3 linked regions of the Homo sapiens genome follow. The protein of the gene in region 3 purifies or fractionates together with the protein of the main gene of each other region. This does not show direct contact. Each region holds a gene or a part of one and is shown on either strand. Other genes may lie near its edges. The genes, in order: RAB4A, ATP1A1 and NDRG1.

The links.
Region 1: the proteins of NDRG1 (region 3) and RAB4A purify together in Homo sapiens (affinity purification with western blotting; 2 studies listed by BioGRID and IntAct, with this or other methods). This does not show direct contact.
Region 2: the proteins of NDRG1 (region 3) and ATP1A1 purify together in Homo sapiens (affinity purification with mass spectrometry; 2 studies listed by BioGRID and IntAct, with this or other methods). This does not show direct contact.

The regions. Positions count from the first base shown.
Region 1 is NC_000001.11:229,293,101-229,303,547, reverse strand, and holds part of RAB4A (ras-related protein Rab-4A), read right to left. Parts: intron 7,701-10,447; coding exon 7,638-7,700; intron 6,067-7,637; coding exon 5,912-6,066; intron 4,572-5,911; coding exon 4,476-4,571; intron 687-4,475; coding exon 571-686; 3' UTR 559-570; intron 1-558. UniProt on the Homo sapiens protein: The small GTPases Rab are key regulators of intracellular membrane trafficking, from the formation of transport vesicles to their fusion with membranes.
Region 2 is NC_000001.11:116,381,946-116,392,392, forward strand, and holds part of ATP1A1 (sodium/potassium-transporting ATPase subunit alpha-1), read left to right. Parts: intron 1-1,424; exon of another isoform or gene 1,425-1,608; intron 1,609-2,068; coding exon 2,069-2,179; intron 2,180-2,837; coding exon 2,838-2,897; intron 2,898-5,342; coding exon 5,343-5,546; intron 5,547-6,185; coding exon 6,186-6,299; intron 6,300-6,692; coding exon 6,693-6,827; intron 6,828-6,956; coding exon 6,957-7,074; intron 7,075-7,493; coding exon 7,494-7,762; intron 7,763-8,267; coding exon 8,268-8,466; intron 8,467-8,836; coding exon 8,837-8,946; intron 8,947-10,447. UniProt on the Homo sapiens protein: This is the catalytic component of the active enzyme, which catalyzes the hydrolysis of ATP coupled with the exchange of sodium and potassium ions across the plasma membrane.
Region 3 is NC_000008.11:133,249,928-133,260,374, forward strand, and holds part of NDRG1 (protein NDRG1), read right to left. Parts: intron 9,304-10,447; coding exon 9,241-9,303; intron 8,500-9,240; coding exon 8,439-8,499; intron 6,937-8,438; coding exon 6,850-6,936; coding exon of another isoform or gene 6,799-6,849; intron 4,669-6,798; coding exon 4,612-4,668; intron 617-4,611; coding exon 513-616; intron 1-512. UniProt on the Homo sapiens protein: Stress-responsive protein involved in hormone responses, cell growth, and differentiation. Acts as a tumor suppressor in many cell types. Necessary but not sufficient for p53/TP53-mediated caspase activation and apoptosis.

The sequences.
Region 1 (10,447 bases), on a different chromosome or scaffold from region 3:
TCAATCAATCCAGGAAGGGCTCCTCACTGACATAAGGAATCAGGATATCTCACCCTTCCCATCAACCACCACCTGCCCTTCCTTTCTTTCTGAACAAGAGCATAAGAATTTCCTATAGAGTATAAATTCTTTCAGTTAGAACATCCAACTTTAACTTATGGGTTCTTCTCCTTCTCTTTTTTTTTTTTCTGAGACAGTTCTCACTTTATCGCCCAGGCTGGAGTGCAGTGGTATGATCTTGGCTTACTGCAACCTCCGCCTCCCAGGCTCAAGCAATTCTCCTAAGTTTCATGAGTAGCTGGGACTACAGGTGCACGCCACCACGCCTGGCTAATTTTTTGTATTTTGTAGAGATGATGTTTCACCATGATGCCTAGGCTGGTCTCGAACTCCTGAACTAAAGCAACTGGCCCACCTCAGCCTCCCAAAGTGCTGGAATTAGAGCCACTGCACCCGGCTGGGATCCCCTCTTTTTCATACTGCAGCTTCCCAAAGCTTTAACAGGCCTCTGCACTTGAGCTTGCCAGGAACTCAGGGCAGGGAGGTGTCCAAACCCACCTGTGTGCTCTCCTAACAACCACACTCCTGAGCGTTCGGGGCCTGTGCGCGCCGCGGTGACCTCAGCTGTCTCAAGGCAGCATCTCCGTACTGAATACCTGAGCCCATTCTTTCTGGGTCCAGCTCACCTAAGGACCAAGCAAGTCTTCTTTTAAAAAAGGCTTTTATGTTTCTTTGATTCCAAAAATAGATTAAAAAAAAAAAAAGCAAAGTACAGAACACTGTGTATATATCCCACCATTCTGAATAAAGGGAAAAAACTATATATATGTTTGCTTGCACCGGCACAAAACATCTCTAGCAGGATACATAAGGAACGGCTGATTCGGAGGAGTTCTAGATGGCTGAGGACAGGAGGGGGTGGTAACAGGGGGACTTTTCATTGCATACTCTTTTATACTTCTTGAATTTCAAATTATGTGAATACATTATTTATATAAAATAATTTAAAATTAAATTACAAAGATATAATTTTTCACTTATTAGATGGGCCAAAAGTCCAAGTATGATGATACTACATGCTGTGGACATGGCTTTAGTGAAATAAGCCCATCACTAGGAGAAAATGTGACAGCCTCTACACCAAGATCCCAAATGCTTATGTTCTCTGACCCAGCAATTCCACTTCTGGGCATTTGTCTGACACACAGACTCATGCACATGTAAAAAAAAAAAAAAAATATATATATATATATATATATATATATATATATATATATATATATATATATAATTATTTACTGTAACATTACTTATAATAGCAAAATACTGGCAACAACCCAAATGTCCAAAGTAGACTGGCTCATGAATTATGGTAACACATAGGTTGAGCGGTCCTTATCCAAATATAGGTTGAGCAGTCCTTATCCAAAATACTTGAAACCAGAAGTATTTTGGATTTTTTCAGATTTTGAAATATTTCCATTATACTTACCAGTTCAGCATCCCTAATCTGAAAATCTGAAATTTGAAGTGCTCCAATGAGCATTTCCTTTCAGTGGCAATGTTGGCAATTAAAAAGTTTCAGATTTTGGAACATTTTGGATTAGGGATACTCAACCCATATTACACATTACACACACACATTATGTATGACATTATGTTATATATATGTACCTTATGTATTATATGTATATACGGAAACTATAAGCTGATTTGTAATGATTTGTAGGTTATACAATAGTAAGTAAAAAAGCAAGGCGTGGTAGTCTATCATATGATACATTTTATATAAAAAAAGGGAAGAAAACAATGGTTTCTGAATGTATTACCCATTAAAAAAATAAAAAGTACTGCTGAAGAATCCTAATTTATACTCTTATATTTTTTTCACCTAGAGGTACTTATGATTTTGATGATCTCAGAAAAAAACACATCTTGGAAGACTGCATATGAGTTGTTCTATCTGATGCATTCAGGGATACAATATTAAAATAGCAAGGTCATGTAAATACAACCTCATGCTGAGCTTAATAATACTCAACAGTAAGCCAACTGTAAGGATTTATGTAACAGTGTCTTGGTTTTTGTACCAAGCTTAGTAATTTTTTTTTCTTTCTGATAAAAAAAAATACAAAAAGATGACATGTCCACTTCTGTTGAAACCCAGCCCTTCTACCTGGGCCCGACTCTCCTCCCTCCTACTTCACCTAGCACCCTCCTTCTTCCCTGCCCTCTCCTTGCCCATTCTTCTCTCCTTCCCCCTCAGCATTTAAACATGCTGGAATTTCTCCCATCACCCACAACCCCAGCTTTAAATTAACCCTTTGCACCCTACAGTGCCAGCCTGTGCTTCCTCAGGAGAGGAGTGGACACTCTGCTTGCTCACCTCCTACTTCTTCCTAACGGACGGCCAGCCATCTTCTACCTTCATAATTCTGCTGAAATTGTTCTTGATCAAAATGATCACTGACTTTCTATTCCCCATCCCAATGTGTGTTTTTCAGCTCAGTCTTAGCTTATGAGGCTTCCCTCTGTTACTATTACATTACATAATGAACACTCCTTTGATTTGCTTATAATTAGGGCTTAAGTGACACCCACATTCCCTTGATTTTCTTCACACATTTCCGACCATTTCCTTTTTCATCTTTTTTGTAGATTCCTCTTCCTCTGCTCATCCTCCAACTCCAGGGTTCTGTTGATCACTGCTCTCCTTAAACACTGTTCTCCGGACGATCACATTGCTTCCACAGTTTTAGCTGTTCCTATATATTGATGGTTCCCAAACTTATACTGCCAGCCAGGAACTCTTCCCCAAGCTTACTAGATAACTCCATGTTCATGTCTCAGCGTTACCGCAAAGGCCGCACATTTGCAACAGAGCCATCTTTACTCCCTCACATTCCCTGCTTCTCCTCTGGCTCCACCCCATCTCTGTCTAGAGACACCAGTGTGACAGCTGCGAGTCATCCTTGGTTCCTCCTCCCCTGCTGGCCCTTCCTCCTCACCTTGTCCCACCTAAGAGTCAGTTGTCCTGTCCCACTATTGGGCATATGAGTCATAAGATGCTACTGCCTAAATATATCTTAGATCCATCTCTCTCTCCATCTCTGCTTCCATATCCTTGTTAAAGCATTAATCAGTCATCTCTTACTAGGATTACTCAAAAATGCCTTATAATTGGTATCCTGGCCTCCAGGCCTGTCCTCCCTTCAGTTTGTTTTCAACATAACCTCCTACATACATGACTTATCTCAAGTCACAACCCAATCACATCACCCACCTGCTGACAACCCACCACCTACAGCAGTGGTTCTCAATCTTGGATGAACATTAGAACAGCATGAGTAAACATTTAAAAACACTGGTGCCTCGACCATACTTCAGCCCAATTAGTTCAGCGTCTCCAGAGGCAGAGCCTGGGATTAGAACTTTTAATGCATCTCAGTGTCTCTAGTGCTCATCCAGGGTTGACAATTGGTAATCTACAAGATAAAGTTCTAGATCCTTGATGAGGACTGGCTGGCTCCTGCCTTTCTTCAACCTTTTCTCCTGCTATTCCCTCTTCCTCACTCCCTTTGCTGGCTCACTCTTCCTTATATTCTGAAAGACTGAGCTCATCTAAGACCTCCCCTGAAAGCCCTCCCTGACACCTCCTCTATCCTCTGGCTGGGGCAGGTCCCCTTCTTCACGTTACCCTGAGCCTGTGCATCTCTCAGCTACTACATCAGCCTTGTGATATTATAATTATCCTCTGACTGTCTCCCATGAAAGACAGTTTCTTGGGGGGCAAGGGGTGTGATTTATTCATTTTTGTATCCCAGCATCTGACAAATAGGCACTCAGATGTTTGAATGAATCAATTAAAAGGTGATGCCCATATATAGTTACTTTAGTAAATGACAACTACACAGTATTTCGTCAGCTGCCTACATTAGGATTATTTTAAATTATTTTAATAAGCAAATACAAAAATGAGGCATTTTATAATTGAGGCATGCTCAGTAAGCTTCAGAAATAAAATTACTCTGGACTCCATAGTTCCATGATGCCCGATCTGCAACAATCAACACTATACCATGTACCTATAACTCCCTTACACATGACCACTGGCCCAACAGAATTAGCGTGCTGTTGACAGAGTGGACAAAGGCCTATTCTTCCTCCGTTTAGTGAAGGACCAAAGAAAGACTATGGTTCTAAATGCAAACACTCCCTGAAACCTTGACTACCTTTCCACAGCTGAGCTGGTGTGCCCATCCACTTTCATCACCATGGAAACCATCCTGATAAGGATGGGGCTTTCATCCTGATAAGAACAGGACCTTTGAACCCATATGTGATGATTTTAGGTTGGCAGGTAGAGAGAGAACATTCTTTACTAAATCACCCTGAAACTATTAATTAAAAGGTGATCTACTGAGCTACAGTGTAAAATATGCAGAAGAAAAGTTGCTTAATGGAAAGGCTTTTACCTGATTCGATTTTGTTAAGTATTTTTCTTGCACACTGTACAAAAGCCTCTTCTACATTCTCCCCTGTGAGCGCACTTGTTTCCAAAAACATCAGCTCTAAAATGGACATCAAACAAAATAAAGTCATGTTTAGAAGATGATCATAATTTTCACTTACAAAAGCCTGTGTAGCATTCTCTTAGAAAAGCAGACGAAATATAATTTATGACCTAAAACCATATATTTCTGTAAATATAAAATCAATATATGTCATTATGTGTTTTTTAAATGTTAAAAGAATTTTAGCCTTTTCTGAAAAGTAACTGCTATCTTGTGCTAGCACTTAACCTGGTGAAGGGGCTGAGCAAGCAACCAGGCTTCCCCAGCCAAATGACAGCCCATCAGAAAGGAGCTGGCTTGCCAAAATGGCCCTGCCATTGATTTCAGGGAAAGTTGCAATGTCCTTCTTCAAACAATCTGAGTGTCACCACAAATATGACCTACAAGTGTTTACACTTTTTAGGGGACTATATTGCAATCTGTCATACAGCCCATGAAGAGACAGTATAGGAATTAATACTCTTTCTACCCACCAGAGTGGCTGTTCATCTCAGCAGAAAGGCCTGTTCTGCTTGCTCTCTCAGCAAACCATGGCCTCTCTAGCCTCTTGTATCCTCACTTGTAAAAATGAGTTTAGATGACATCTAAATTCCTTTTCATCTTTGTTAACATTCTAAACTTCTGATTTCTAAACAGCTTTTTAAAAACTGTCATGATGGCATATGGATTTCTCTCATGTTTATTTTCTTAGCAAGAAACTAGTCAAGTTACAATATAATTTGGAATCTTAGAGTCCAAATATTGATATTAGGATTCTAGTTTTTGGTTCTAAAAATTAAAGTTATTTAAAATGTCTGAAGTTTTAAAAAATCATTCTCTTATCCATTAATTAAGCAACCATTAATTTTATGTGGCATTTTCATGTATTCTATATGGAAATTCAAAAAAGTTTCAAAGTTGTCTATAACCAAATGACTTAAAATGAAGCCAAAAAGCCAAGTATTTCTTCTTCCGCTTCCCTTTCTATTTGGGTTAATATTTCACCAAATTTCCTTCAAAATACATTAAAAAATAATGACATCATTTGGTTAGAGTCTTTAAATATTATTAATTTCACTTTAGCCCAAGATCTCTAATATTCAAAGACCCTAGACTGAAAAGTCATTACATAATGTTACTACATTTGCTTTTATCATTATAGTAACTTCTGCAGGCAGAATGCAATATACTAAAAATATGCTTAATAGGTCTAATTTATAGAAAAAAACAATTGGAAATTCCACATTTCCTAAATCTAGTTTAATCTTGAAATTCCAATATATGTTTTAAATTCAAAGAAATGCTATTATCCTCAAATATGCGATTTGAAAAATAGTAAGAAGTAAAAGGTCACTTGCCATTTTCTTGAGCAAATCTGGAGGCTTCTAAGAAGGTAACTTCACGATCTGCATCCAGGTCCTTCTTGTTTCCACAAAGGATGATCACAATGTTCTGGCTCGCTAGCATTCGGGCATCTGTTAACCAATTAGTAAGCGCATTGTAGGTTTCTCGGCTGCGTAATATAAGATTGTGAAAATAATACATGTATTTTATAAAACTAGCAACTCTTTCCAGTCATTCTCACTACTCATACCGCTTTTCAACATTTCAGGGTAATGGCACCAACACCTTTAAGATAACTCAGACAACGTGAATGCACCAAGTATATACCATACCCACAGTTTGTTCCATTTTGTTTCTGGTAAAATGAGACAGCAAGTGAGATATTTTGTTATTTTTCGTTTGCCCAGTCATGGGGCAAAAGGAAAGAGATGTTCCTTCATTCAATTGACAAATATCTATTGAGCTCTTAGCATGCGCAAGGCACTAGACTCTGGTAGGCAAGATTTCATAGCTAATTGCTGCCACTTAATGAATCCTTGCAATGTGCCAGCACTTTGTTTTACAGGACTTTATCACATTGATTCTTTATAAAGATTCCATGACACAGACTGCCATTATTCCCCTTTTCTCTGAGAAATCCAAGGCCCAGAGAGATTAATTACGTTGCCCTAGGTCATACAGCAGCCAGTGGCAAAGTCAGGACTTGACCAGCTCTGTCTGACTCCAGGACCAACTCTCAGACTTACTATTTTTGGCCCTCATGTGTCTAAGGATTGAGTTCTTCTCATGGCACTTTGCTAGCCTGATTGATGACTTCACACTTTAGCAGGCTGAGCCTTTCACTGCCTGGGCAAGTGCAGGAAGGGCTGGGCCAGAAACTGCCTTCCTCCTCTCAGAACGCCTGGCTCCCGGGACACAGATTGGAAGAGGGAAGCGGCTGCTGAGTGACATCCTCTCACTGGACAGGTTCCTACCCAGAAAGGGCCCCCAGATGATGCCATTTAGATGACACATTTCTAAGACAGTGCTACTGAGATCAGCACTGCTGAATGTGATTTCCTCATGGATAGGAATGTTCTATAATCTGTCCTGATATGGTAGTCACCAGCCACATGTAGCTACTGAGGACCTGAAATGTGGCCAGTGCAATCGAGGAACAGAATTTTTTATTTCAGTTAAATTGCCATATGTCACAAACAGCTACTAACTGCTTCACATTAACTAATTTAAACCTCCCAATAACCTCCTGAGGATCATGTGATTATTACTATCTCCATCTTACAGACAAGGAAACTAAGGCCCAGGCAGCTGAAGCACCTGGCCTGAGAGGGTCAATCAGCTAGTGACTGCAACTGGGATTTGAACCCAGCAATCTCAGCCCAGAGTCTGTGTCCTCACCCTCTCTCAACTCACTTCTAATAACTTTCCATACATAAAGCTTTGTGAACCTTAAGGAAAGTGTCCAAGCATCATGTCAAGAAATGTAATGTAATAGCATGGATTGCTTTATCCACCTAAAACCTTACAAACACATTTCTCTGCAGGGGAAAGCAGTGGTAGGGGCTCGTTCAAAGACCTCTGAGACCCCAGATGGAAGGGCTAAGGGGCTTCCTGGATGCCAGCCACACCACCGTCCCTGGACACACAAAGCACACACTGCACGGAGGGCACCTCGCCAAGACCAGCCTTTGGGCTGCAGGGCACTGAGCACCCTCCTTCACCAGGGGGAGCTGGCATTACCTGGTGATATCATAGACGAGGAGAGCCCCGGCCGCGCCTCGGTAATAACTTCTCGTCACGGACCTGGAAGAATTATACTGGTTTTACTTTCAACCAATTGAGACCCTTTACTGTATCCCACTTTCCCATGAAAAAACACCCATGCTTGCTTTGTAAACCACAACACAGGGACAGACACTGGTTTAAAAGAGAAATGATTCAAAGATATTTGAACATACATGTGAGGGGTTATTCTGCCTGAAATCACATCACTGTGGCAAGTAGGAGATTCCTTCACAGCGGATGCAGCTCTCTGATGGATGTCTCCTTTGAGAACTCCTAGCAGGGTGAGCTGTCTGCGGAAGCCAGCACCACCCCCTAGATGGACACTAAGGGGCTCAGCAATCCACTCACTTCTCTGCGAGCTCCTCATCTACCCCACTCCCTGGCACAATTTTCTCCATCTCTTCCAGTTCTCGCCACCTCTCGGCGCGGTGGAATCCATAGTCACCACAGGAATCCATAGTCACCACGGCCCTACACCCACCTGCATCCCTGCCCTATTACTACGGGAAAACTGAGTGTCCCAGTATGTCATATCCACTCTCACATTCAAGAAGGCGTCTTTTGGTCATACATGTTTTCCCCTACATTGTCAATCTCACCCTCTTTGTGAGATTTTTCCCATTAGTGGCCGGACACCTATAATCCCAGCACTTTAGGAGGCCCAGGAGGGAGGACTGCTTGAGGCCAGGAGTTTGAGACCAGCCTGGGTAAGAGAGAGAGACCCTGTCTCTACAAAAAATTAGCCAGGTATGGCAGTACACACCTGTAATCCCAGCTACTCAGGAGGCTGAGACAGAAGGACTGTTTGATCCCAGGAATTTGAGGTGACGGTGAGCGATCATGCCACTGCACTCCAGCCCAGGCAACAGAAAGAAAAAAAAAAAAAAGCCAGGAGTTCAGGATTTTTCCTATTAGCAAAATAAAAATAAATTGGCTCTGGTACCGCCCATCTTAAAACACAAAACAGAAATATGCTGCACCATCTTTTCAGTTACTGTCCCACTGTCTGCTCTTCTCCACATCCAACTGTCTTTTTTGAGACAGAGTTTCGCTCGTTACCCAGGCTAGAGTGCAATGGCGCGATCTCAGCTCTCTGCAACCTCTGCCTCCCAGGTTCAAGCAATTCTCCTGCCTCAGCCTCCTGAGTAGCTGCACCCGCCACCACGCCTGGCTAATTTTTGTATTTTTAGTACAGACGGGGTTTCCCCATGTTAGCCAGGCTGGTCTCGAACTCTTGACCTCGGATGATCCACCCGCCTCGGCCTCCCAAAGTGCTGGGATTACAGGCGTGAGCCACCACGCGTGGCCCCACATCCAACTTTCTGAAAGAGCTGTCTTTACCTGCAGCTTCCTCTTCTTCACCGCCAACCTAGTGTCCATCTCTGCTACTCCCCAAAAGCCTGTCAAGGTCCCCACCCTCTCTGCAACCGAAGCTGGAGTGGGCATTTCTGTCCTCACTCACTCGCGCAGCCTCTGCGCCCTGCACTCTGCTAGTCTTCCTCCCGCTCACCAGCCACTTCTCTGGCTCTGGTCATTCTTCTGAATCTGCCCTGCTGGGATTGCGATTCCCCAGAGCTGGGTCCTGGGCTCTCTTAACATTCGACTCAAATTTTGTCTCCAGCTCAGATCCAAGTGCTGCCTCCATATCTCCATGAGACTGCCTGATAAACATGTCAAACTTAACATCTGCACAGCAGGACTCTTTTTGGTCCCACCCTCCAGGCCCGTCCTGGCCTAGGAAGAGGCATCACCACGCACCCTGTTTCTAAAGCAAATCAGCTCCACATTCATCCTCAATTCCTGTGCACCTCCACATTCACTCCGCCAGCCTAGTGCAGTCTCCTACACTACACAAATCCTGTGTCTGCCCACGCTGCTGTCCCTGCTGCCATGTGTGGCCCACAGTCCATTCTTCAGAGCAGCCCAACTCATCAAGGCCCAGGACAGGACATCTCCGTCACTGTACCTGTCCCTTTGGCCCCATTCTCTTCCCTGCTCCCAGCCCCTGCCACTCCCGTCTGGGCTCGTCACACCGCTGGCTTTCCTTGTCCCTTGGGTCTCATTAACTCTATCTCCTCAGCAACGTTCCCCAAGCATCCCCATCCAGTGGACCCCCTCTATCTCAGCGTGCTGTCTCCTGGGTGGCACCATCCCACTTGGTGGGATGCTCTTTCTGTCTCTGTCTCTGTGTTGGCTGCCTGCCTCCCCTCCATGGGGCAGGGCTCTGCTGTCTCACTCACCAGAGGATCCCAGTGCCTAGCACAGGGCCTGGACCACTGCTAGCTAGACATTCCCAGAACTTAACTGTGGCCTAATTAAATTAAAAAATATATATTTGGTCTTCGTCCCAGGTTCCTGGCACAGAGGCCCAAACCCCTGTGATTTCCTTAGTGATAAAGGTGTCTTTTGTAAGCCAAGGAGATAACTGTGGGAAGAGTAGCAGGCTAGAGAGCCTTGGGATCGGGGCTGTGGCCGTGGGAGCCCTCACCGAGTGAGGAGAGTGCTGGAACTTATAGCCTCACCTCAGCCCTCTGGGGAGGAAAGAGGAGCTGGAGATTGAGTCAATCATCAATGGATAATGTTTTAATCAATCGTGCCTTTGTAATAAAACCTCCACAAAAAAACCAAAAGGATGGGGGTCAGAGAGCTCCTGGGCTGGTGGTGGCATGGAGGTGCTGGGAGGTGGCCCATCCCCATACCTCGTCTCCTAAGCATCTCCTCCACCAGGCTGTGCCTGAATTGACACCTATCTAACAAACCAGTAA
Region 2 (10,447 bases), on a different chromosome or scaffold from region 3:
GTGGGTGGATCATGAGGTAAGGAGTTCAAGACCAGCCTGGCCAAGATGGTGAAACCCCGTCTCTACTAAAAATACAAAAATTAGCCAGGCGTGGTGGCGAGCGCCTATAATCCCAGCTACTCAGGAGGCTGAAGCAGGGAATTGCTTGAACCCTTGGGCGGAGGTTGCAGTGAGCTTAGATTGCGCCACTGCACTCCAGCCTGGGCGACAGAGTGAGACTCCATCCCCAAAAAAAAGAAAATTAATACAAAGTGGTCACATAAATCTTTTAGAGATCCTTAGTCAATGTCTTTAAAATGTTTTTTAAGTGTTGTGCTTTCTCATTAAAGGTATGATATACCTTTAATTAAAGCTAAAGATATACCACTTTAGCTGTGGTTCCTTTCTGGTAGATGACCTGCCTTTTCCTTTTTGTTTTATTTGTCCACTTGTATGTGTTACTATTTTTCATTTAAACTCTGGCACCAAGAGCTGTACCGAAAGAGGCACCAACAAATGTGGTTGCTCCATAATGGAGAGAATGTCAAGAATGTTGACTATCTTTAGACCTGCTTCATTAATAGATAAGATAGAAACTAAAGAACCCACCCAGTTGGAAGAAGTTATTAGTCAAGTAGTGCTGCACACGTGACCACAGAAGTTAAAAAGGTAAATAATGTGTCTCTACATGTGGCCCACTCCAGTGAATTTGGAGAAGGATTTCTCCTTGGAGTCTTAAGAGGATATTTTTAAATTTAAGTGAACAATGTATTTTATTTGCAACTATTAGTTATGACTGAAACACACATAATACGTTTTGATTTTCTTTTTTCATTTCAGCACAGTGAAATTATAATCTGGACACGAGTTCCTAATTATTGCTTTAGTAGCTGGTAATGCACTTAGGAAAGTTAGAAATGAGTAAAGGAGAACCACAAAATAATAGTAATAGCACCATATGTCATGCATTTTAAGAAAATTGCTAATGTCTACTTTTTGGCCTTAAGTTGTAGTTGTGGGAGGCTGCTTCAGGGGGAGGTGTCTGGAACAAGGGGCTCTTCTGCTCCGCTAAGCTTTGGAGCACCAAGTTCAGGCTTTGTGTAGATAAGCTCAAGGATTTTTCAACAGGGGTGGGGGAGTGGAACAATCTAAATTTAAACTATAGAATCAACATTTTCTTTAAAAATTGTTCCAGTTTTCAAGAGGCGTAGGTGGATCCTGTGAATTATGTGATAATGCACACGCTTTTCCTACATCCTGCTTATGTCAAAACATTTCCAGAGACTTTCATTTTGGAGGTTTTATTTTCAGGCTACAGAATGGGCTGGGCGCTCCCTTTTTTATCTCTTATGCAAAGAATTTTAAGGAGTCTTAGGCTGACTTTTTAATATGGGAAGCTGGTAAAGGTCAGTGTTCTTATGTGAGCACTAAAGATATTTAAATTTGATATGTAATAATGTCTTTGCAAAGCAAAGAATATAAACAGTATAAAAGTACTAGCATTTAGATGTATTGTATCATTTAATCCTTAAAAACATGAAATGAGGTTGGCACTATTCTTTATCTCCACGCTGTGGAAGAGGAAATTGAAATGTAGAAGTTAGTAACTTGCCTAAGGATACACTGCTGGTAAGTGGTAAAGCCCAGGATTTTAACTCAAGGCTGTCTGATTGAGAATGCGGACTCATAAGCACAATATTGCACTCTAAGTTAATAATGTAAAGTTAGTTTCATTCTTTCAGTAGGGAAGATGGAAGGCTGCAGAATAGGGATTTTGATAGCAAAAATCTCCTCATTAACCCCAAAAGGAAGTGGCACTGGCAGGGCCATTCTGAAGCCTACCGGTAGCTTCAGTATTGTTCTTAATGCTCTTGGATGGAGAGAATGTATCTTGAGCCAATGTATTAATAGTAGATTGCTTTGCTTATGTAGTAGGCAATATATGGGTATACATTTTCCTGACTATTATCTTAATGACTATTCCAAATTATGACTACCTTAAAAACTACCAAAATCCCCTGCTCCAGAATTTTCAGTTTCAGATGAGGTTCATAATTCATGGCCTCACTTTTCCCACATTCTCCTACAGGTTGGACGTGATAAGTATGAGCCTGCAGCTGTTTCAGAACAAGGTGATAAAAAGGGCAAAAAGGGCAAAAAAGACAGGGACATGGATGAACTGAAGAAAGAAGTTTCTATGGTAAGTACTAGGAGGAATATTGTATTCCATCCTTATTAAAAATCCATGATTTTTAATCCCCCAGGCCTCACTGTATTCTTCAAAGAACTGCTATATATTAAAAGAGATCATAGCAGCTGTACAGATCTCATCTAGTCGTAGAGGTTAATGTTGAACATATACTTTTTAAAAGCTGTTAGAGGGTAGGAAAAGTTATTCAGTCACTCTGGCATAACCAGAGATAACAGAAGGAACTTAGGTTGATACCATGAGTCTTTGCTTTTCTCTGTATTATATCAAACATTGGGAAATTCAGCCTCTCCAGGCGATGGAAGCTTCCATAGACTTAACCTGTCTAGAATCGACCTGGTCATCAGAGAAGGCAGATAAGGTTTTACTAGATCCCTGAGAGCTGCTGGGTTTCTCTGAAGTGTTATGGCAAATAGTAATGGGCCACGGTCACTCAGCTTTAGCCATTCTCCAGTGAAGAGCTGTCAATGATAACTGTGTGGTTGCAAAGCCACAAAGCGATGGTGAAAATTGTACCAACTTATGCACTGAAGAAAACATCTGCACTTTGTTTAATAAGCTTAATGATAGTAATGAATAATGCTATTTTTTCTGTCATTTTTTTATACTACACTGTTTAACTATTTTCTTTGTTTCTGTTTTCCCTTAGGATGATCATAAACTTAGCCTTGATGAACTTCATCGTAAATATGGAACAGACTTGAGCCGGGTATGTTCTAGTTTGAAAGCTGTTGTACAAAATCCTAGTTTTCCGTATTATATTTTCCCCTGTATTACATACAGGTCTAACCTCAGGGGCTCTAGTAAGAAAATGACAGACACCATCTGCGTATCTACCATGTGACATGCACAGAATTTGGGCATTTATATGCTACCGTTTCTTTTCCCTGAAACTTTTTGAAAGTAGATGTTATTTTCTTTTCCCTATTTTATAGCAGTTGAGAGCCAGTAAGTGGGAACACCAGGACTTGCAGTTGGCTTCAAAGCCATGCTTATGCCTTGACCTTTTGATGATAAATTTTCCCTTTATTTTTCTACATTTGTTAAATAGAGTTGAATCTTTCACCTAGTTGAATCTTCAACAATTCCCATTTTTGCACTTTTCCCAGCTAGCCCATTGCAGTGTGTTATGGTTATACTATCATTTGTTTAGTTATTCTATCATTTAGTTGGAAATTGTTTTGTACAAAAATTAAAGAAACCTTTTCATAAAATAGGCGTTATGTATCCTTGTTATGTAGAGGATTTTGATATTAAATGTGTAACAAATGTTATAAAAGTAAATAGTCTAGGGATGTCTTATTTCCAGATAATCACTGAAATGTCTGGGAATAACTTGAATAGCAAGCCAATATGTAGCATTTTTTCAGTAAGGCATCAAGAGACATGGGTACTGTGGTATTCTGATATATATTGGTTTTTGTCCACAGTTCCTGGTTCATAACTCCCATAGCCCTTATTACAGTCGTTTGTTATAATGTTGGGTGTGTTAGACCTCAGTGGCAGGCTTCAAGAAACAGGATCTCTCTCCTGCCCTCCTTTTCACCTGTCGCAAGGCAGGACTCTAATCTTGTTCCACTTTTCTGATTTTCCAGGTAGATAGTGTTGGAATTGAATTGGAGGAAACCTTGGTGGTGGGGAGAAACCGCCACACCTTTGCTCACAGAAGTCATCTTCTGTGTTGATTGTTGGGGTGTAAGAGTAGAGAAGAGGCCGGGTGCGGTGGCTCATGCCTGTAATCTCAGCACTTTGGGAGGCTGAGACTGGTGGATCACCTGAGGTCAGGAGTTCGACACCAGCCTGACCAACATGGAGAAACCCCGTCTCTACTAAAAATACAAAATTAGCCTGGCATGGTGGTGCATGCCTGTAATCCCAGCTACTCGGGAGGCTGAGGCAGGAGAACTGCTTAAACCTGGGAGGTGGAGGTTGCAGTGAGCCAAGGTTGTGCCATTGCACTCCAGCCTGGACAACAAGAGTGAAACTCCATCTCAAAAAAAAAAAAAAAAAAAAAAAAAAAAAAAGGAGAGAAGAACAAGGTTGAGAGCGTTTTTCTTGACACAAGCACTTTAAGCTCCAAGAGGAGGCCTCGAGTCAGCTCAGAACAACATGCCAACAGTGACTCTGTGCTTACTTTGTGCCAGGCAGTCTCTAGCCACTTCACATCTCACTTAAGTTTTTATTAGAGTCTTAATGAAGTGTGCTCTCTCCGACCTATGCCCATTACTCAAATGCTGCGGGTCTATTTCTTTACTTATAAAATGAGGTTAATAATGCCTAAAAAAGGATTGTCATGAGAATTAAACAAGTTAATTAAAGCACTGAATTCAGTTCCTGGCATGTAGATAGCACTCAAATGTTTGGTAACATGAGCACAAAACACAGATAAATAGATACTTTAGACAAAAATATTTTATTTTTTTTTTGACTTGTTATTTTGAGAGTATAAAAGTGATCATATTTTCCTCTCTTAATGAGAGCTTATATGTAATTGCCTGCTGTCAGTGAATCTTGGGTTTAAGGCCCATTAGAAAAATAGCAGGCTTTAGTAGAGTGGTTTTTTCCAGTGAGTACTTTTCAGTCAACAGGTTTATTGGGAGGTGGCTAAAATGCACATGGAGGTGAGCCCTTCCCTGCCAGACAAGCAAAGAATCAAGCTGTATATTTAAAACTTGGCTGTTAACCCAAAGGATTTCTACAGGAAGTTTTTTTCTCCTTTGATGTTTGTAGAGGGGTTTTTTTTCCCCTCCCGACAAAATCAATACACAGAAAACCCAAAGCTCTTAATTTGCAAAACTGAATGGATTTGTGAAAATAGATACCTTTTTGGCAGAAATGCAATTTGGCATTAATCCCTTGATCTAAAACTTAGAAGAAACCAGGCTGAATTCAAATTTATTGATGGATCAATTTAAAGAGTTTTAATCTGGGTGTTATGAGTTCCTTGGGCCTATTGTTTGCCTGAACCCTGTGGGGACTGGCTCATCAGCAGAATTATTCATGGAGGAATTTGCTAGGTTTTACCTTGGCTCTCTAGCTTGGGACATTTTGTTTCTTCCTTAAATCCTTATTGCAACCGTCCAGCTACCAGGTAGGTATATTGCCTTGTAAGTGCTGGTACAGTTTGCCTTATTTATATTCCACTGCTTCTCAGGGATTAACATCTGCTCGTGCAGCTGAGATCCTGGCGCGAGATGGTCCCAACGCCCTCACTCCCCCTCCCACTACTCCTGAATGGATCAAGTTTTGTCGGCAGCTCTTTGGGGGGTTCTCAATGTTACTGTGGATTGGAGCGATTCTTTGTTTCTTGGCTTATAGCATCCAAGCTGCTACAGAAGAGGAACCTCAAAACGATAATGTGAGTTCTGTAATTCAGCATATGGATTTGTAGTACACATCAGATATCTTCTCCGTCTTTGTCTCCCACTTCTTCTCAATTACCACTCATTACTTAATGGTTATGAACTCATTACTTAATGGTTATGAACAGCTGTTGCCTTCAAGGCTCATCCATTCTTCCTTCGTTTCCATTTCCTCTCTCTACCACCCACGTTGTAGATGCTCTTACAAGTGGGATGCCCACCTGCATGTGCTGCTGTGAGCAGGCAGCTCTGCTCAGGCCCCGGCCGCCACCCACTGGATGGCAGAGCACAGCGATTCATGTTGGCACATCCACCTGTCCAGAAATGCTTGGTGGCCATTCTTCAAAATCCACAAGTTGGTTGAAAAACAATCTTTGTTTTATAAAGCAGGAGAAACTGATGCATCTAGAACCTTTCCAAACGTCCAGTTAGTGATCAAGTGTTGGTGTGCCTGACTCCATTTCTGACCCTTCCTGTGTGGTCTTTAGAAGGATAAATAAGAAAACATGAGTTCTATATTTCTGAAATCTTGGTTTCTCTATTAAAAATCTGTTTTTTATTCAGTCAAAAAATTAATTGAATGTCCCTAATTATTGTGTAGAGCCACGGGCCCTAACTTGTCTTTTCCCTTCCAGCTGTACCTGGGTGTGGTGCTATCAGCCGTTGTAATCATAACTGGTTGCTTCTCCTACTATCAAGAAGCTAAAAGTTCAAAGATCATGGAATCCTTCAAAAACATGGTCCCTCAGGTACCAGACGCTTTGTCCTTCCCCAGTGGATGACTTGACAGCCCCAAGCATGTCAGCCTGTGAATTAGTGTGAAGTTAAGGTTTTCCAAGTATTACATGACTCATCAGAGAGATGGATGTCTTCTACCCCACCCAAAACCAACCTATTTTCCTTCTATCCAAAAAGTGGTAGCCTTTCTTTTGAATGTAAACTCTGAATACAGGCACACCATGTAACAGCAATATCTCTTAAACTGGCGAGCAAGCTTTTGTAACTTGTGTAAATAAAAAAGTGAATAATATCTTTGTTTTGTATTCAGGTAATTAGGATTATGACTATTTTTATTTTCTTGTTTTGGACACTACCTTCTCTTTGTTGGTATACTAACGGTGTAAATTGTTTCTTTTCCAAAGCAAGCCCTTGTGATTCGAAATGGTGAGAAAATGAGCATAAATGCGGAGGAAGTTGTGGTTGGGGATCTGGTGGAAGTAAAAGGAGGAGACCGAATTCCTGCTGACCTCAGAATCATATCTGCAAATGGCTGCAAGGTAGCTCTTTTATTTTAACAAACCTCATAGCTAGCTCTGCTGTTCGGGCAGCTTGATTTGAGGGGTACAGTAGCCCATGATAAGGCTGGTGTATTCACATGACATTTTTCTTCTTTTCCTCACATATAGGTGGATAACTCCTCGCTCACTGGTGAATCAGAACCCCAGACTAGGTCTCCAGATTTCACAAATGAAAACCCCCTGGAGACGAGGAACATTGCCTTCTTTTCAACCAATTGTGTTGAAGGTAGGCCATTTTTGGGCACTTTGAGCATGGCGTGGTATTTCTCTTGGGCATTAACAAAATCAAAACCATAGGCACAATCTCTTGTTTTATTGGCTCCATTTCTGAGAACTTGTGTCAAGCACAGAGCAGAGGTGTTTTCCTAGCTGGCAGGAAACCTTGTGGCAGTTTCCCTTCCCTCCACCTCCACCCTGCCTCTTCTGTCAACAACACCAGTCTGGCATGGGTGTTGGAGCTGCTGTCCTGCTACTGGAGAGAAGTCCCTTTGCCAAACAGCATGTACAGCCAAAGAGCTGGCCCTTAAAAAGTGCTTTTATCAACTCTTTTTGTTTTTTTAGTCATCCTATGTAATTGTGTAAAATCCGTGGCTTCCTTCAGGTTAGATACAATTAGGTACAGTTCTCCCTCCCCTTCTTTTTAAGGCACCGCACGTGGTATTGTTGTCTACACTGGGGATCGCACTGTGATGGGAAGAATTGCCACACTTGCTTCTGGGCTGGAAGGAGGCCAGACCCCCATTGCTGCAGAAATTGAACATTTTATCCACATCATCACGGGTGTGGCTGTGTTCCTGGGTGTGTCTTTCTTCATCCTTTCTCTCATCCTTGAGTACACCTGGCTTGAGGCTGTCATCTTCCTCATCGGTATCATCGTAGCCAATGTGCCGGAAGGTTTGCTGGCCACTGTCACGGTAAGAGGCAGGTGATGGTCACCCTGACTCAGATCAGCTTGCACGAATGTTACACTCTTCCGCTATCCTATTCTAAGGTATTGCCAACTTATGTTTTATTCTGGATGTTTGATATAGTTCTTCTTGAGAGCCACATCACGTGGTGAATTTTGACAGTGAGAAAACCTCAGCATTTGTTTATACGTAAGATAACCCCAAAGCATACATTTTGCTTTTAAATTATCACGTGGTCCTGAACAGTGCAGTGGAGAAAGGAGAAGAACTTGGGATCAAGTAGGGGGATAGAATATGGTAGAATCCTGTTATTATTTTTCTTAATAGATTGCTTTTCTGGAAGGAAGGGGAAGCCTCATGTATGGGTTCCCCTTATTATTTCTTCAAACTTCAGAAGAAGGTTGGAGAGATTTAATTTTAGACAAATTTCTTCCACATTAGGATATAGCAAGAATCTGTATAGAATTCCAGCCTGGTTGAGTGAAGTAATAATCTTCCTAATATTTTTTAGGTCTGTCTGACACTTACTGCCAAACGCATGGCAAGGAAAAACTGCTTAGTGAAGAACTTAGAAGCTGTGGAGACCTTGGGGTCCACGTCCACCATCTGCTCTGATAAAACTGGAACTCTGACTCAGAACCGGATGACAGTGGCCCACATGTGGTTTGACAATCAAATCCATGAAGCTGATACGACAGAGAATCAGAGTGGTAAGGCCAGGGTTACCACACACCTCAGCCACCTGCTGACTTCGCTTGGTTTTTTTTCTTTTAAGAAATTGCATGAAATTTCTTTTTTTTTTTTAAGCTCATGGCAGCTTTTTCTTTCTTTTTTGTTTTTTTTTTTTTTATCATTTAGTGAAGAGTCAAGGGTATGGGATATTGATTTTTTGCATGTCAGTAGAAACTTTAAATTGCCCTACAAACGTGACTGAAGAATGCCTAAAATGTGATTGGTTTCATTAATTGGGAAATGAGATGTATCACTGCAGATTTCTATGGGACTTTAATAGGAGAACTGAGAACACAGCCTTTGAAGTTAATGCATTGTTGTTCTGTTGTGTTTTCTTGCCTCCATCAGGTGTCTCTTTTGACAAGACTTCAGCTACCTGGCTTGCTCTGTCCAGAATTGCAGGTCTTTGTAACAGGGCAGTGTTTCAGGCTAACCAGGAAAACCTACCTATTCTTAAGGTATGCTCAAGAGTTAACTAATGGAGGGATGTAGACAGCACATGAGAACTGCCATTTGAGTGTTAAAAGTAGCAAATTACCTTTGTGGTCTGTGTGACTGTTCACTGTAGAACACCTGGAGTGGTCTGTGCAGTACTTTGCTGTGTGTAACTTACATTGTGTTGCCTGTAGATCCTGATGTATTATAGGACCCCCTGCTCCATATAGGTTGATTAAAAAGGGAAGATGCAGTAAAAATCTGACCAAAGTGGGAGGGGAGGAGACGGAAGACAGTCTTTATTGGTGAAAAACCTAATTCATCTGCTTTTACTACTCTTGAGTTTATATGTTATCACCTAACCTAGTGGACAGTGAGAGCTGAGGGCTGCAGTGACTCCATAATCGTATTTGCATATTAGGATACAGTAGATTCCAGTAACTCCTTTAAGCCATTTATTTTCCTGAAATAGCTCAGCTTATCTTATCTTATTGGTTCTTAGCTTGTTTACTAATGATGTAAAAATAAGCTCCAGGCCAAAATAAGCCCAGCCTTAGCCTGTGGAATTCTGATGCAGTTTGAAATGATTGAGATTTTACTATGCTGCCCAAGTGAAGATGCAGTCTCAGAAGGATCATGAATTGTACAAAGTCCTGTAGGAGAAGAAAGCTATGTGAGGCTCTCTGGGTCCCACATTCTCTGTGAAGCTGCCTGTAGTAGTTGTGGGTATAAACTAAGTTGCCAAAGGGAATATGGCTTGGATGTAACTCAGATGCCTTCTGTGATGAGGATAGGGTTCATTTATTCTGCAAAGGAGATTTTCTTGGCATTGAATTGATGTTGATTTGAGGATAATGTTGTGTATCTTGAGGATAAAACTTGAGATAAATGTTTCATGTTTTTCTTTACCTCAAAGTGGAAATGTTCTAGGCTTTGAGCATCAGGTCCCACAAGTATCAAATCTTTCCTGATTAAAAAACCCCAGAAAGGTAGCAGAAGCTGTATTCCAAGTATTTCTGGAGTTCGGCCATGTTGATGGCATTATTACTAAAAAGCGGGGAGGGAGAAGCAGCCCTATTCTGCTTTTATTAAAAATGGCTTTTATTAAAATAAGTGGCTTTTATTTAAAATGTCCCCCACTTATTTTGTGTTTCTTTCCAAACCCAGCCAACTTTCTTGCTCTGTGGAGCTGCTATACTTCTGAGCATTGATCTGTTCATCTGCATATGCAGCCTTACATGTTAAGGTTCTAAAAGGTTTACCTATATAAAATTTGTTTACAACTGAAAATGCTTTCAGTATGTCAAAATATAAGTGTGTCATCATGTATCATAGAAAATATGTGTGTCACTGAAGCATGGGCTTTAACTAAAATGTTACGTGGTTCGATTTTATTACTGTTGGAGTTGGTAATAGCTTTCAGTTCACATCCTTCAGGCCCAGTTAATTTTGCACAGTTATGATTAGAATGCACAGTCTTCTACTTTGCCCTTGACACAGGCAGCTTGTCCCCAGTCCTGAGAC
Region 3 (10,447 bases):
GGCCCTGAGCTGTCTCCTCCCCTAGCTGAGCTCCAGATAAGCACCTAGTGCTGGTTGAGAGGGCCACGCCTTAGGCAAAGGCCATGTTCAGGTCCTCCTTATCCTTGGAATGACAAACTCCCAGAAGCCTGCCTGGATTATCCCCGGCCTCCAGGAGTGCTTTGCTGCTCTCTCACTTAGCTCTTCTTACATTTGGCCTTTCGTGAAGGTCAGCAGCGGGCACACATATTTACTCTCAACCCTCTGAGTGTGCGACTGCGTCCCTCTCACGTCTGCACCCCCAGTGGTCTGGAGTGTTTGTTCAGATCCCTGCAAGGCGAGCTGAATGCCAGGAACCAGCTTACAGGCCAGGTGTCCTTCCTGGGGACACCTGTCCTATTAATCTATTTGCTCAAACTCAGAGCCTGCCTCTTCCGCTCATTTTATACTCTCCCTCTCATCTGTCCCACATTTCGGATCTACAGAAGACACCTCATAAATAGCAATGATGTGGCTGAACTACATCCCAATACCTGTTGTAGGCATTGATGAACAGGTGCAGGTTGCCGGGGTTCATGTCATTCACAATGTGCTGGCGGTAGGTGTGGACCACTTCCACGTTACTCTGCATTTCTTCCTGCATTTAGAGAGGTGAGAAGATGGTCCTCATCGCACTGTGGCCCTGAGCTGGTCACTACTCTCTCCATTCTCCAGGTTATTTGGAGACAAAGTAAAGATAATAATGCCTAATCCACAAGACAGCGACGGACCTAAAAAAAAAACCTTTGGGAAAGCAACACGCCCAACCAGGTGCAGACAGGGGTTTCACTATCCGCTGGGAGCAGAAAAGACCCCCATCCTGGAAAGGCCACACCCCACCCTTCCAAACTCATTACTTTGGGAGTTTCAATTTGAAGTCAGACATCCTGGATCTAGAGCTTAGCTTCATCACTGTCCCTTTCGTAGGCAAATCTTTCAACCTCTCTGAGCCTCAGATCTCTTAAAAAAAAAAAAAAAAAAAAGGGAAGAGAGAGAATGTTGCCTACTTCACTAGGTTGTAGGACTTAATGGAGGTTGTGTTCTCACCTCTACTAACAGTAAAAATTGGAGGCAAATGTTAGTAATTGTTTTCCAATGGGAAGAGCTGAAAAGAAGTTTTTCATGCTTGAAAAGCAAAATCAACTCATGCCACAGGAAGTTACTGAAAAGAAGGGCAATTGCAACTCCCACCACGGCCAACCAGAGCCTTGGGGAAGTCGGCCTCAGCCTCCCCGTCTCTGGGTGCTTTTTGAATGTTATTTGCGACAAACAACTTGTTTGCTCTGTTTCTCATTTGTACGAGGGCAGACACTGTAGGTTTCACACAAGGGTCTGATATGACCAGTGGCAACCAGATGAGAAGTTGGAGTTGGGGGTCAAAGAAAGCCGGTGTCAAGCTTGAGCTGCATCAAACAGTCCAGGATCATTTAGGCAGCAAGGAGGTCAACTGGCTACTAAGAGCAAACTCTGGAAAAAATAGTCAGGAATCACGCTGGGATTTCAGATCAAAACCAACTATAGCGATCTGGGGGTACCCTCAGACACCATGGCCGGACCAACCAGTCTCCAAATAACTTGGGGTATAATCAGATCAGATGCTCAACGCTATGTCTGACATCCCTCCTCCAGTGAAACAGAGACAGTGGCTGTGAATTTTTCCCAATTCCTATCAGTTTCAGATTACACACTCAGGACAGGGAAAATGTGTCACACGCTGTGGAATGAATCGTAAAAGGGGAAAGAGGACTCTAGTGGGCTAAACTGTGGCCCTCAAAAGATATGTCCATGTCAAATCTCTTGAACTTGGGAATGCAAACTTGCTGGGAAAAAGGGTTTTTGCAGGTGTAATTAATTAAGGATCTTGAGATGAGATAATCCTGGATTACATGAGCCGGGATGAAATCCAATGGAAAGTATCCTTAAAAGAGGAAGGAGAGGGAGAAATAAAACAGACACAGAGGAGAAGACCATGTGAAGACAGAGGCAGAGAGTGGTGTGAGCAGCCACTAGCCAAGGAATGCCGACAGCGACCTGGAGCAGTAAGAAGCAAGGACGAATTTCCCCTGGAGCCTGTGGCGGAGGGGCGGCCCTGCCAGCGCTTGACATCGGAGTTCTAGACTCAGAGCTGTGAGAGAATACACTTTTGTTTTCCTTTTTCTCTGTTTTTGAGACAGAGTCTCCCTCTGTCTCACCCAGGCTGCAGTGCATGGCGCGATCTCGGCTCACTGCAGCCTCTGCCTCCCAGGTTCAAGTGATTCTCCTGTCTCAGCCTCCCGAGTAGCTGGGATTACAGGCGCGTGCCACCACATCCGGTTAATTTTGTATTTTCAGTAGAGACGGGGTTTCACCATGTTGGCCAGGCTCGTCTCGAACTCCTGACCTCAGGTGATCCACTCGCCTAAGCCTCCCAAAGTGCTGGGATTATAGGTGTGAGCCACCCTGCTCATCCCACTTTCGCTGTTCTAAGCCATCCTGTTTGTGGTAATTTGTTACAGAAGCCACAGGAAACCAACACAACAGGCAAACCTAGCAGTTGTACTCGCCAACTCCAGAGTGGAGCCTCTGTTCCCCTGGTACACTCGCCAACTCCAGAGTGGGGTCTCTGTTCCCCTGGTACACTCGCCAACTCCGGAGTGGGGCCTCTGTTTCCCTCGTACACTCGCCAACTCCGGAGTGGGGCCTCTGTTTCCCTCGTACACTCGCCAACTCCAGAGTGGGGCCTCTGTTCCCCTGGTACACTTGCCAACTCCAGAGTGGGGCCTCTATTCCCCTCGTACACTCGCCAGCTCCAGAGTGGGGCCTCTGTTTCCCTCGTACACTCACCAGCTCCAGAGTGGAGGCTCTATTCCCCTCGTACACTCGCCAACTCCAGAGTGGGGACTCTATTCCCCTCGTACACTCGCCAACTCCAGAGTGGGGCCTCTATTGCCCTCGTACACTCGTCAACTCCAGAGTGGGGCCTCTATTCCCCTGGTACACTCGTCAACTCCAGAGTGGGGCGTCTGTTCCCCTGGTGTACTCGCCAGCTCCAGAGTGGAGGCTGTGTCCCCAGGACTCATGGGAGTGTCAGATGGTCACACATGTTAGCTCAGAAGCAGACAGTGGTATGTAAGCAAAGCAGGTCACTGCAATTTCAGGCAACCAAGGGGTTTTCCAGACCCTGGGCTTGCAACCAAGCCCATGGCATACCCTTCCCGAGGGTAGCTGGCCCCAGCTAGAGACACAAAACCAGTGTCTGGGGCCAGGCAGGCTGGGCTGATAAGATGACTGCTCACTTCTAGCATGCTGTGAGGGGCTTGGCTCAATCCCCTTTAGTGGGGTAACTCTGCAGAAGAGCAGCTCATCTCAGAGCCAGGCAGCAGCACAGGCAGCCGCCATCCTGCTGTGGTGACCAGAATGAAGCCAGATTCATAGGTTCTAATACCGGCCCCACCTCTCCCTGGTTGAGACCCTATGCAAGTCACTCAACCTCTCTGGTCTGTTTCCTCTTCCATAAACTGGGAATGAGAACAGAATTTATCACACAGGTCACAGAGCACCTGGGTGGAATCCTATTCCTATAGTTAACACTTGTGAAGCTCTTAGGACTGAGCCCAGCCCAGCACACAGCTAACTCCACGGACATGTTTGCTACTGACCAGATTTATAACAGCCCAGAACTGGGAACAACTCAAAGGTCTTATCAACAGGTGAATGGAAAAACAAACTGTTGCACATACATAAAATGGAATACTTCTCAGCACTAAAAAGGAATAAACTTTTTTTTAAGAGACAGGGTCTCTCTGTCACCTAGGCGGAATACAGTGGGCTATCCCAGCTCACTGCTCACTGTAGCCTCAAACTCCTGGGCTCAAGCAATCCTCCTGCCTCAGCCTCCCAAGTAGCTAGGACTATAGGCATGCAGAACCACCATGCCTGGCCAATTTTTAATTTTTCTGTAGAGACAAGGTGTCACTATGTTGCCCAGGCTGGTCTTGAACTCCTGGGCTCAAGCAATCCTCCTGCCATGGCCTCCCAAAGTGCTGGGATTATAGGAATGAGCACTGCACCCCGACTAGGAATAAACTATTGATCCACTCATTAACATGGACAAATCTCAAAATGGTTATGCTGAGGGAAAGAAGCCAGACCAAAAAAAAAAAAAAAAGAGTACCTACTATATAATGCCATTTATATAAAATTCTAGGAATTGCAAAGCAATCTATAGAGGCCAATGCTGATCAGAAGTTGCCTGAGGAGGAGGGAGAGGAGGACTATCAAGGGGCACAAGGAAACTCTTGGAGTGATGGAGACGTTATTCTCCTGATTACAGGGATGGTTTTACAAATGTATATGCATGTCAATTGTACACTTTAAATATGTGCAGTTAATTGTACTTCAATCAGCTGTTTTTAAAAGACACATAAAAAAGAGAGAGAATGAATGACTTGTTGCTTATGAATGAATAATGTCACATTATCTCATGAGCACCAGCTCGGTGGCCCCCAGTTGATTGTGTCTTGTTCTCTCCACCCCCACATGGGGCCCTGTGCTGAGCACCACACAATGCCTTGCTCAGCAGGAACAACAGATTTGCCAGACCACGCAACTCACCTTCCCAAAAAGGTGGGACACCACCATGTCCGGCAGAGCTTGGGTCCATCCTGAGATCTGGAAAGGAGTAAAGTGGGTGGATGAGAAACCAGGAGCTAACAGTAGTTAACAAGGTCAGCAAAACCCCACTTCCCTGGGTGCAGGGTGGCATTGCTGGACTCCCCCCTACATGCAGGCCTCAAGGACATCCCCCTTGATAGAAACTCAGTTCCTGTCTCCAGTTCCCTCCTGGACCTGATCCCCCAAATGCAGGGCCTGGGACTATATCCAGTTCCTTATTTTCAGAGGCCCATGCACAAGATGCACAGCAAATAAGTGCTGAATAAAGACCCAGCTACTGCTAGCTTACCCTGCTCCAAACATTCACCAAGTCCTCAGCAAAGAGGGCCATCCATTCACCTCTTCTAAAAACACACTGAGCTCCCCAGTCTATACCCCAAGATATGCTTGGCTCCCAACTATCCCTCCTCTCTCATCTCCAAGCCAGTTTCCCCTTTCTAAGTATACTGATATTACCAAAGACACTGACAATCTTCTTTTCCTACCTCTCCCCAGTGACTAGGTTTGCAGCAGGAGCTCTATAAGTCCTAGTATACAGCAGAAGCTCCATAAATGTGTGCTGACCTAAGCATTAGGCAAAAATGAGTAGGAGAGAAGCTCTAGACCTAAGGGTCTTTGGCTGGCCCTTGCCTGCCACAGCCTAGCTGTGTGGCACTGGGCAGTCTGCATACCTCTGGGTCTCAGACTTCTAATCTGGAACTGGGAGTGCCAGGAACTTCAAGGCCACAAGGTCAAGGGAAGGACTGCAAGAAGTAACTGCACACATCACAGTATCTAATACCAATGCCTGGTAATCGAAAGGCTGGAGTTGAAAAAGAAGGGAATAGTACAGCTATTAAAGCTGTACTGAAGGGAATAGTACAGCTATTAAAGACAATCCTCAGGCTTCACATTAGCCAGTGGTCGACATCCCCAGACCTTCGAGTCTCACTCAGGACAGCTATCATGAAGCCCAGCGGGTTGACTGGAATGTCACTTCCTTTGCTGGAAAATCAAATAAAAAACAGGGAGTGTGTTCCACTCCAGAACGTCATACAGGCTGGACGGAAGGGCTCCTGCATTCTGGAGGAATGTTCAAAGAACAAATGCAAAATCACAGTGGCTGGTACAGGGCAGGGGATGGGGCAAGAGGCAGGGCCCCTTCAAACCATCGGTCCCTGGCAGCCACCCAAAATTGGGCAAAAATGCACTTGCAGAATGAGAAGCTGCGATCACCTCAGCTTGAAAGACTCTGTCCTATTTCAACTGGAATGACCTCCCCCTCTCCTTGGCCAACACTGAGGCCTTTACAGGGAAAAAAACAAAAACAAAAACACCACAATGATAATTTTTAAAAGATAAACAAGGAACCTTAGGACACCAGCCAGGACAGAGCTTCCCAAGACAGCACAGGTCCCTTCTCCTCCAGGCAGCCTACCCTGCTTGCCAGGCCTGCCTGTCTCCCACCCTGGACAGGAGCCCCAGGGGCACGGGTGGTCAGGTCCACGAACCACAAAGTCAAAGCAAGCTGCATCCAGTCCCCGTTCTACTGCCTAGCTTTATGTGACCCTGGACAATCCCCTTAGCCACACCGAGTCCTTACCTCTGAAACGGTGATAAAAATTCTCACCTCCTAGAGTTACTATGAAGATTAACTGAGATCATGCACACACAGCAACGTAGAATGAAACTAGCACATGGTAAACTCTCAATCTACGTTAGCTAATTATTATCGTAAAATTCTGTGGCACAGTCCGTACTAAATACATATTTATTTTTCTTTAATAATATGTGAATGGATTCCTAAGATTCATTCCTAGAGGCTTTTGTCTTGTTCATCTCAAGAAGTCTTGTTCTTCAAGATGCTCAGCATCTTGACCAAAGCCTGGCACAAGTTATGTACCCAGCTAATACTCATTAATCCAAGCAATGCTTCTCCAAGCTGCCTCAGGGACCTGTGTCCCAGTGCTTTCCCTGGCTTAGACAGCTTGGTGGTATTTAAGTCTTCTGAATGGCAAACGGCTGAGGTCATGTGTACTGTTCTAAGTAAAGCAGAGGGAACTGGAGTGGGCAGTAGAGGGTAGTGGAGGAGTGGGTAAAGAGAGAGCTCGTAGCTCCAGGGATCCCCCAGGCAGAGGCTGTGTGCACCTGTCCCTCTTCTTGCAGGGATCCCGCCGGCCTGACAGGCCCCCACCTCACCTTGGAGGCGGCCCAGTCCATCCAGCCTTCCGCACAAGGGTTCACGTTGATAAGGACAAGGCCCTCCACCATCTCAGGGTTGTTTAGCTGCAATTCAAGACACAAAGTGAGACAGACATCCCAGCAATCTGAAACACTAGGAACTTTCCAAGGCAAACCAAAGCTTGAGAGAAGTACCCAGAAAAAGGCAGTGTGGGCAGCAGAGCAGGCTGCTGCTCCCCGGCCCCACCCCATGCAAAACTGAGGTTCCAGCACAGCAGACACGGTATCGGGTCCTAGAGAGAGTGGGAAGGAGAAAGAGGAAGTGCAGGAGAAGTAGGAAGCCCGCTGCTTTGCAGGCCTGCCTTGGGCAAGTCACTTCAACCCACGGAGGCTCAGCTTCTCCAGCTATCAAATGGGTGTAACACACCATCGACCTCATCAATCAAACAAGGCGCACAGCACAAATGCTCTCTAGTTGTGGCAGTAACAACTGTATTACTTACTTCCAGGATAAACACATGCATACACACACACACACACACACACACACACACACACAGAGAGAGAGACAGAGTTATGCATCGCTGAATAACAGGGATACTTTCTGAGAAAATTCATCATTAGGAGATTTTGTCATTGTGTGAAGATCTCAGAGTATACTTACACACACCTAGACAGTATAGTCTACAACTCACCAAGGCTGTATAGAACAGCCCTTTGCTCCTAGGTTTGCTGTACAAACCTGTACAGCATATGACGCTACCCAATACTGCAGGGAATTGCAACACAATGCTAAGTATTGATGTATCTAAGCAAATCTAAACATAAAAATGGTACAGTAAAAATGAACCATTATAATCTTATGGAACCACTGTCAAATGTGCAGTCTGTCATTGACCAAAATGTCATTATGTGATGCAGATACATACAGATATAGATATGTACACCTGGGGTACAGTTGAGACCATTTTTAATTTGCTGAGAGCCTATATGGCCAGACCATTTTGTATTCATGTCAGCATTCCTTTCTTTTTTTTGTAAGATGGATGTTGTAGAATCATGTCAGTATTCCCAACCTCCAGCAAAGCCCAGCAAATAATAGGTAGTCAAAATACCAATGGATGTACAAAATGAGTATTGTTGCATTCTTACACAATTGCTCGGTGAGGATACAAAGGAACAGTGGCTCTTGACCTGAGCCCAGAGAAATAACAATGACAACTGTCATGAAAACTTCCCGTGTCTGATTCTAGTTTAGAATCAGTTATGACCCAGGAGTGCCCTGACTACAAAAACCTGTACAGCTGTTACAAAGCAGTGTCATAGCAGAGTACTCAGTGAGTGAGGAGCGTCCTCACTAGATGGCTAAGCGGACAAAGCCCATGACAAAGGAATGTGTCCAGTATCATCCTTGAGTGGAGGAAGAGAAAAGGCTGTGAGTATATATATATACGAGTACCCATGCACCACACACACACACACACACAACTGTGGAGAATACGGGTCATTTCTTTTTCCCTTTTGGGTTTTTGATGCTTTTCCAATGTCTTCCTTCATCTTAAAATGTTATTTAAAATGCGATTTTCAAAAAATGCCAAAGCACTCACAGCAAATCGAGTTAGGATGTAGGCGCCTGCTCCTGTTCCCATGCCAATAATGCTTTTCAGCCTGGAAGCAAAAATACAAATGCATGTCACACAAGGACAGAGTGACGGGAGCCTCCAAGGACCCACTTAGAACTTCCTGAGGGTGACCGCCTGGCTAGGCAATGCGGGAGCATGCTGCCGTAACTGCCTGCACAGCTCTGAGGTCACCATGCTTTAGGACTGGACAGAGACCTCGACCTTGGAGAGCCGCGCCCCTTCTCCTCACTTCCCTCCTGGCCGCCACCCAGGCTCTGAGAGACCGTCTGACATTTACGGGAAGGCCCGTTACGGCATCATTTCTTCCCACTCTTAAGCTTTATTTTGGATTCTAAAACTTGGAATGAAAACAAATTGAGCAAGAACCATGAAGTTATCATTCTTTGAAGAGCTCAAGACAGAGAGGAACACTGGAAAAATGAGGGTGTGGAGAGAAAAGCTAAGGACTCAGGCAACTCCATTCCAGAACATTCCATGGGAAAGAGAAGGGAATGGAAGAACAGGAGGCAAGAGCAAATGGGTGGGGCAGCTGCCATCATGCAATATAACATTCACGCAAGAGGAAAACTGAAGTTAGAGGAGACAGACTAGAGCTCAGAGACTGTGTGAAGAACAGTGTTCACAGAGTGACGAGCTAATTTCTTGCCTCATCTCTAAATTGCAACCTTAATTTTAGTGGTCAGTCCAGATCAAAGCCAAGGGGCAGGAAGATGCTAGAAACCAGGCTTCTCTGCAGACAGAGAAGGAGCTGATCCTTCGCTCTTACCCAAACTGTTGAAGGACTCCAGGAAGCATTTCAGCCAGCTGATCCATGGAGGGGTACATGTACCTGGGGATGACACAGAGAAGCCATTAGTGAGCGCCCGGACAGAAACGGGTAATCCAAACAGGGACACGCTTGAAGGGTGGGGACCATGCAGCAGCCTGCCCCATGCACCCAGACCCCCCCACCCCCAAGTCTAGTCCCTTCGCATCCTCCTTCCAAGACCCCTGCAGCACACTCTATCAATTGCTTCCTACGCTCCAGGTCCCATGGACACATTCTGGGAATTAGCTCATTCAATTTTCACAATAACTCTAGGAGGCTGCTAGGATTTCCCCTCATAGCAAGATTATAAACATCACTGAGGCTGAGAGATGAGACACTTGGCCTCACAAGAGCAGTAGATGGTTAGCCAGAAACATGTCCTCACTGTGTTTGTCTGGTTTTGGGTCTAGGGTGTTGCAGAAACTGACTAGAAGGCATTTCACAATTCCAATGTCAGGGAGAAGGAATTAAAACAGGCATGAATGAGTTCCATCCGCAAAGCAGTGATTGATCCTCACACATGCCGGGCTCTTGGTGAGGCAATGGCAGGGGTCTGTGAGCAAAGCAGATGCAAACCAGGACAGGAGCCAGCCCTCGAGTCAACAGAAACAGGGGGTGTTACTCATAACAAAGCCTATCGAAACAGAGACCTGCCGTGCTCAGATGATCAGGGAGGGCTTCTTGGAAGAAGTGACGCTGAAGGGGTCATGGGAACCTGATGAGTAAAGCGTGTGGGCAGGGAAGCAGTGTATGCGGACGCCCTGGGAAGAGCCAGAAAGAGCCCGTATGGTGTGGCTCCACATCAACAGAGCCACTGAGCTGAGAAGCCGCAGGGCAGAAGTGCGGCAAAGACATGAAGCTCCTCTGAAATGGCCATGGCTCAATTTGGAGCCAGCAGCTCCTAAGGTGTGACACTGGAGAAGCCACTTAATTGCAGGGCCCTCTGTTTCTTCCCTGTTCCCCAGGGCTGGTGTGAGGCGAGGAAGCAGCAGAATTCTACTTCCAAGGTCCCTCCTGTGTAGGTGGTGGACACCGGGGCCAGGAGGAGCCCAGCCAGGGATCCCCTACCCTGCTCTGCTGTCTCGGCTTCAGAATACAGGGGGCTCACCCTTAAAGGGCCTGGGAGATGCTCCCTCACCCCTCCCAAGCCCCACACTCTCCTCTG